Linked DNA regions of Homo sapiens. The gene in region 2 interacts genetically with the main gene of each other region. Each region holds a gene or a part of one and is shown on either strand. Other genes may lie near its edges. The genes, in order: PRKCZ and GPI.

The links.
Region 1: changes in GPI (region 2) and PRKCZ together harm fitness more than expected from each alone (negative genetic interaction), as found in Homo sapiens cells (one large-scale study listed by BioGRID).

The regions. Positions count from the first base shown.
Region 1 is NC_000001.11:2,168,616-2,172,421, reverse strand, and holds part of PRKCZ (protein kinase C zeta type), read right to left. Parts: exon of another isoform or gene 2,972-3,806; intron 2,929-2,971; coding exon of another isoform or gene 2,905-2,928; coding exon 2,818-2,904; intron 368-2,817; coding exon 232-367; intron 122-231; coding exon 34-121; intron 1-33. UniProt on the Homo sapiens protein: Calcium- and diacylglycerol-independent serine/threonine-protein kinase that functions in phosphatidylinositol 3-kinase (PI3K) pathway and mitogen-activated protein (MAP) kinase cascade, and is involved in NF-kappa-B activation, mitogenic signaling, cell proliferation, cell polarity, inflammatory response and maintenance of long-term potentiation (LTP).
Region 2 is NC_000019.10:34,378,505-34,382,310, reverse strand, and holds part of GPI (glucose-6-phosphate isomerase), read right to left. Parts: intron 3,378-3,806; coding exon 3,306-3,377; intron 2,794-3,305; coding exon 2,749-2,793; intron 846-2,748; coding exon 792-845; intron 1-791. UniProt on the Homo sapiens protein: In the cytoplasm, catalyzes the conversion of glucose-6-phosphate to fructose-6-phosphate, the second step in glycolysis, and the reverse reaction during gluconeogenesis.

The DNA.
Region 1 (3,806 bases), on a different chromosome or scaffold from region 2:
TGCTCCGAGAGGGGCCAGGGCAGCGGCACTCACCGTACTCCTCTCCCCGCAGGATTTCGGGGGCGATGTAATTCGGGGTTCCGCAGAAAGTGCTCGTTGTGTCACCAGGGCCCAGGCCTTCCTGTGGGGGCAAAGTTACTGGGAGAGGGTTCTTGTAGACACTACCCCGCGGGACAGGCGCCCCGAGACGCACATGCGGGATGGTCAGGGGAGGCGGTCCAAGGCACGCACCTTGCACATGCCGTAGTCTGTGAGCTTGATGTGCCCGTCCGCATCCAGGAGGACGTTGTCCAGCTTCAGGTCCCTGTAGATGATCCCCCTCTCGTGCAGGAAGTTGAGGGCGATGCAGATCTCGGCCGCGTAGAACCTGGGGGTGGGGATGCCGTCATGGGGGCAGTGCCTGTGCCAGAGGCTGCGCCAACAGCTCCAGCCTGGGGGCCACACACTCCCGTTTGCCCCACCACGGGCCCGGCATCCTCTCAATGACCAGGCCCAGGATTTGAAAGTGCAGTGCACAGGGCCAGGGAGGGAAATGCCAATGAAAGCTCCAGGACACCACCCCATGCGCCTTAGGATGGCCTGCTGTCAAAGACACAGAGAACGATGTGGCAGCCTCCACAAGGGGAGGAGCGGGCAAATAACACGACAGCTTCCATGCGGGAAAGACCGGAGCCATGGCACGTTGTGGTAGGAGTGCAGAACAGCGCCGCTGCTGCGGAAGACAGTCCGGCAGGTCCTCGAAAATTAAACACGGTGCCAGGCTTGGTGGCTCACACCTGTAATCCCAGCACTTCGGGAGGTCGAGGCAGGCAGATCACCTGAGGTCAGGAATTCAAGACCAGCCTGGGCAACATGGCGAAACTCCGTCTCTACTAAAAATACAAAAAAATTAGCCGGGTATGGTGGCGCACACCTGTAGTCCCAGCTACTCTGGGGGCTGAGGCAGGAGAATCACTTGAACCTGGGAGGCAGAGGCTGCAGTGAGCTGAGATCCCACCACTGCATTCCAGCCTGGGTGACAGAGCGAGACTCCATCAAAAAAAAAAAAAAATTAAATATGACCTTTTTTTTTTTTTTTTTGAGACAGAGTTTCACTCTGTCACCCAGGCTGGAGTGCAATGGCGCGATCTTGGCTCACTGTAAGCTCTGCCCACAGGTTCACGCCATTCTCCTGCCTCAGCCTCCCGAGTAGCTAGGACTACAGGCGCCCGCCACCACACCTGGATAATTTTTTGTATTTTTAGTAGAGACAGGGTTTCACTGTGTTATTTCACCGTGTTAGCCAGGATGGTCTCGATCTCCTGACCTCGTGATCCGCCCGCCTTGGCCTCTCAAAGTGCTGGGATTACAGGCGTGAGCCACCACGCCCGGCCTAAATATGGAATTCTTATGTGGTTAGCAATTCAGTTTCTGGGTGTATACCCCAAAGAACCGGAAGCAGGGTGTTCAAGAGATTACTTCACACCCATGTTCACAGCAGCACTGTTCACCATGGCCAACATGTGGATGCCACTCAAGTGCCCCCCGAGGGATGGACGGATAAGCAAAGTGTGGCCCCTCCATCCAACGGGGCATTATCCAGCCTGAAAAAGGAAGGCAATTCTGAGACAGGCCACAGCACGGATGAATCTTGAGGACGCTATGCTCAGGAAAATGAGCCACCGAAGGACCAACACTGTGATTCCACTCCGATGAGGTCCCTAGAGTCCTCGAATCAGAGGGACAGAAAGTGGGACGTGCCCGTCTGGGGTGAGGATGTGAGGCTGGGGCGGGGGACAGGGAGGGAGTGTCTGATGGGCCAAGCTTCAGCAGGGAAGAGGGGCGTGCTCTGGAGATGAGACGGGGGCCAGCAGTGGCTGCAAAGCATGGGGTGCATTCAACGCCACTGAATTCCATGCCCCAAAATGCTACCTTTTATGTTGTGTGTTGCCACAGTTTTTAAAAACAGCGTTGTGGGAAGTGTACTGTTCTAGATTTATTGCCTACTGTCCTATTGCCAGAAACAATCTAAGGTGACTCACAAAACTGCATGCAACGTTCTTAAGTAAGGAAATGAGGAAAAGGAGAAACTACAAAAGACAGGAAAGGTCCAGGGAGCTGAAATAAGCCCCCAAACGGTCCTGGAGGTCCCGCGGCTGCCGGGGGAGGCTCCTGAACCATGCTGGAGGCCCCTCGGCTGCCAGGGGAGGCCCGAAGATATCAGAGATGAAAGGGAAGGGCAGGAAGGAGTCTCTCAGGTCACTCTAGAAACAGACCACTCTCGTTCTGCTCCTAACGCTGAGGAAATGCTGGCCATGCTGTGCCACTAACAGGGTGAAGAGCAGAACCAGGGCAGAGCCACCATGAAGACAGCACAATCCCAGGAGACTCTCACTTCTCTCGGATGAGGCATGGTGCTGCTTCAGGGGTGGGGCCTGGGGGACTGGTCTGAGGCACCATAACTCAGGAGACCTCCCAAATGTTGTGACTCTGGAGCAAATATGGAATGTGTCACAATGCAGGGGACGTCACACTGTGGGGGACATGATGCCCTCTGCCATCCTACCTGGACTTCCCTCCCTTGAGCTCCCTGCTGACCCCTGGAGAAGGTCCCCGGCCCCCTCCACGTGCACCCCGCCCCCCCCGCCCCCGTCATACCCCCTCCGTGCACACCCCACCCAGCCACCTCCCCTCTGCGCACACCCACCCGGCCCCCCAACTCCGCGCGCACCCACCCGTCATCCCTCTGTGCGCACCCACCCAGCCCCCCAACACCGCACGCACCCACCCATCCCCAACTCCGGGCGCACCCACCCGGCCCCGTCCACGCGCACCCACCTGGCGTGCTCCTCAGGGAGCTTCCTCTGCCTCTGCATGTGGAACATCAGGTCCCCGCCGTTGACGTACTCAATGACCAGGAACAACCTGCAGGGAGAGAGGCGCCGGAGGCTGCAGTCACCTCGGCAGACGGCGGCCTCCTTAGACAGAAGCCCCACAGAAGCGGCCTTCGTGGGCCCGAACCCTCCCGCAGGTTCAGTCTTGCAAAGAGCAAAGAGCAGCAGGAGCACCCTGGCAGCAGAGAGGGGCTGGTGGGGACGGGCTGCGGGGCCGCTCGTGAAGGGTGCAGGTGAGGGAGTCATGCGGGGGCCTCGCCGGCCTTCACTCTTGGCCACTGTGTGTGGACTTGGGAAGTGTGGGTGGGCCCCGGAATGAAGGAGGTGGCCCGTCACCAGGTGGGAGTGGAGGTGGCTTGGACCAGGGCTGGGGGCTGGGACAGGATCTGCTGGGGGCTGGAGCGAGGCAGTTTCTTGCATGGGGACAGCACCGCAGGTCACGGGTGGGGTGGCCTCAAGGCCTGATTTCATTGCTGCAAGGCTGAGGAGTCCACCGGCCCTCCAAGGGAACAAGCTGGGGTCAGGGAGAAGCCAGGTGGGAAGTGGCATCCCGGTTTCGCAGACATGATCGTATGATTTTAAAAGATCCGCAGATGTCATCAGGACCACGCAGGCCCTTCCCGTCTCAGGGACTGGGCCACATGGTTTCTCTTCCTAATAAGATCTTTTCCTACATTTCATGAGACTCAATTTTCAAAATTAAATTCTCATACAATCTCCCAGAAATACCCTGTGGCGGGTTTTTTTAGGTCAGCGGCTCCTCTGGCACCTGAATTGTTTATTTGCTTCCGACTGGTGGCTGCTCCTGGCTGCCCCTCGTGGAGCGGGGAGTGAAGGAGGGAAGCGTGTGGTGACTCTGCCCGTTTCCTTCGATCCCACGCAAGCTCCCACACCACCGCCACTGTTACGCCTCAAGGCACCTGTCCCTGCTCC
Region 2 (3,806 bases):
CAAATGCCTGGAGACAGCCCCAGGTGGGAAAACCACCAAATGGGCAATGCCCTCTCTGCTGCGCCTGCCACAGCGTTAGAGCCCTGCACGTAAGCCCGGCCATGCCCACAGCATTCACAGTGCCTGCATCACACCCTGCACTGCACCCCTGCACCCTGGGCTTCACAGTCAGAGCCCTCCTCACACCACTGCTGAGCTCAGGCAAGTGCACAAGGAAAGCTGTGGCTCACTGCTCGGCTCCAGCAGAGGTGGTCCCATGGACCACCTGTTGCTACAGAGGGGTCGGCAGCCCTGTCACTCAAGGCAGGGTTTGCTCTGCAAGCTGCCCCAGCCTGGCGCCTCCTCTACGCCACCCCCCCAGCTCCTCCTGCAGCTCCTGTTGCTCCTTTCCAGGCCTACCCGGTCATACCTCATGCCTCACCCTGCCCTTGGCCTTTACAGATGGTGGCTGCAGTTCAGAGAAAGGTCATCACTGAGAATAACTCACAACCTCAACTCTGTGAGCGTGGCAAGGGGGACTCGGGTTACCCCACAGTGGGTGTTGCAGGCAGGCACCCAAGGGAGTGTCATGTGGCCCTGCAAGCTCAGCCCGCCCTCAGGTGGAAGTGGAGCCCTCATCCTGCCTGGGTTGCTCTTGCCCTCCAAGCCTCTCTGAGGGCCTCTCTACCTTTCCCCAAGCTAGGTATGCAGCAGGTACTCAATAAACACTGACCTGACCTCATGGGCCTCTCAACAGCCATGACTTGGCAAAGGACACTTAATTCACCCAGTGCAGAAGTGCTTGTACTTACATCCCAGAACTCGAACATGTTTTGAGGGTCAATTCCAAACTCCTTCACTTTGGTCTACAAAAAAAAAAACAAAGGGAGAGAAATGCAAAGAAGCATTTGCTAGCGGGATGGGAACAGGAGCTCCGGGAGGCAGGGAGCTGTGCTCCGTGAGCTGAGCCTCACCTTCCCCAGAGCCAGGGATGGGGCAGGGCTGGAGCAGCCTGTGAGTCGAGGGCAGGGCCCAGGATCTGCCCACCCCAAGCTGGACACCAGATCAGTCCATGACCAGCACGCCAGTGACGTTGTGCCTGCAAAGCCCCCTGCTGAGGGCAGCTGTAACCCCGTGTGAGGACCTGGCCCACACACTGCTCTGCAACAGCTCTCACCCAGGCCTGCCTGGGACACCAGAGCATGATACCCCTGGACATCTGGGAACCGAACCTAGGACTGGGACCCAAGTGTGGGCAGGGGCCACCTACCAGGCCAGGCAAACAAACACAGGCTGAACAGCCACCCAGCCCTTCCCATGTGTGGGAGGGTGACTGCACCAGGAAGCTCTGAGGAGCCATCAGGTATTCTGGTCCCCAGGGCAGACAGGGCCAGCAATTCCTTACCTATTCCACATAGGAGGAGAAGCCCTACTGACCAGTCAGTTGCAGGCAGGCAACAGTGCTATGGTTAGCCAGCCTTATGGCGTCCTGCTGCAGCTGGGTAGGCACTGGAGGCAGAGATGTGGGGATGATGGTGGAGGGGGTGGGAGGGAGATGTGGGTGTAGTCCCCAGCTCTGACACAGCACAGTGCCCACTGGCTGACTGCTGCTGTCACTCCTGGAGCATCCCTCACTCTGTCATGCCCTGCTGAGCCTGCACAACCTCGAGGCCAGGCAGACTGTGAGAACTTGGAGACAGGAGACCCAGGTTCTAATCCTGGCATCACCTACTCATACAGTCACTAAGTGGGCCGGGTACAGTGGCTCATGCCTATAATCCCAACACTTTGGTAGGCCGAGGTGGGCAGATCACTTGAGGTCAAGAATTCGAGACCAGCCTGGCCACCATGGAGAAAACCTGTCTCTACCAAAAATACAAAAATTACCTGGACGTGGTAGTGGGCGCCTGTAATCCCAGAATCAGCAGGCTGAGGCATAAAAATTACTTGAACCCAGAAGGCAGAGGTTGCAGTGAGCCAAGATCGTACCACTGCACTCTAGCCTGAGTGACAGAGTGACCTTGTCTCAAAAAATAAGCTGGACATGGTGGCACACACCTGTAATCCCAGCACTTTGGGAGGCTGAGGTGGGCAGATCACTTAAGGTCAGGAGTCAGAGACCAGCCTGGCCAACGTGGTGAAACCCCGTCTCTACTAAAAATACGAAAATAGCTGGGCATGGTGGCGTGCACCTGTAATCCCAGCTACTCGGGAGGCTAAGGCAGGAGAATCGCTTGAACCTGGAAGGCAGAGGTTGCAGTGAGCCAAGATCACGCCACTGCACTCCAGCCTGGGCAACAGAGTGAGACTGTCTTAAAAAAAAAAAAAAAAAAAAAAAAAACAAAACCACACACACTAAGTAGGGGGCAAAATGTCACCTCCCTTCATTGGGGCTTTATGTCCTTAAGTGAAAAATGGAATGCATCCTCTACCCCTACCTAGCATGTCACATTTGGGGAGATGCTGGGCACAAAGGCCTAGGAAGGTCATGTGTATGAAGGGTTCTGTGTATCAGTCAGGCCTGGGAGACGGAAGAAGGGGTTATCGTGATCCCACTGACTCCAAGCCTCCCTCCTCAAAGCTGCAGAGGTTGAATGGGTAAATGCGGAAAAGGCAAGGAAGGCTTGCAGCCCACAGGCAACCAAACCTTCCATACCATCAGCCAAGCCAAGATCCACCAGACCTACGAACCGCGTCTCTGAGAGGCCATGACCTGGACATGCTGGGCACTCCCAGGAAGGCAGTACAGGGGACCACGGGGGCACTTACTGTGTTAGTAGACAGGGCAACAAAGTGCTTCGCCACTGCAGAAGGCTACAAGAGACAGAGCCAAGTTACCACAGCCAGCCCAGGGAGACAAAGGGTAGTCACTTCCCATCACTAGAGGAACCAAGGCCCTGCATGGGACTGAGATTCCCAGTCCTTGGTTCTGAGACTGTTGGAGAAGGCCCACATCGAGGTCAAGGTCAAGAAAGCAGACGGGTCACAGGCCGCCTGCTCATCCCATCTTACAAGCATACGGGGCTCAGGGACGTCCCTCCCCTATAAAATAGGTGTGGCCAAGAGTTCCTGCAGCGCCAAGGGCCTGCAGAGAAAGGGCCATGCAAGGGCTGTCAGCCAGCGAGAGCAGGTTCTGTCACATCTGCAAGGCTGGGTCTGACAAAGCCAAGATGAACAATCATCTCATCTAGCAAAGGCAGGCACCGGCAAGGCCGCCTTCACTTCCAACTTCAGGAGAAACACGGCCAGACTTGGTCACTCAGGGGCCCACCCTGCTCTTCCCAGCCCAGAGGCTAACCACGAGGAAGGCCCTATAGCCCACTCACATCCTTGGCCGCCTGGAGAAACCACTCCTTCGCCGTCTCTGCATTCGTGATGGTCTCCTGGGTAGTAAAGGTCTGCAACCAAAGAGAACAGCAGTGGGCGCCCGAGCTTAGGGGTGGGTGCAGGCCTTGAGCCAGGGTTCAGCAGTAGAGGCCAAGGCAATGCCCAGCTGTCCCATGGAGCAGTATTTGCAGGTCAGTGACAGTGACGCCACATAACCTCCTGAGATTCCAGCTCTTTAAAACCAGAGGAGGGGGGACGGTAAACACACCCCCCAACCCTAAGCCTGCAGGTCAAAGGCCGCAGCTTCTCCCCTGAGGGGCTGCAGTCAACCTGAGGCTCTCTTCGGCCCAGGCTGGAAGGTATCTCAGAATTCAGATGGAATTCTTCATATTTTATGTACATTCATGTGAGTAAATAGAACATAAATAAAAACAAACAAAACCCCTCTATTATCAGGGCATGGCTCTGGGATCAGAAAGGAGCAAGCATGGCTGGGCATG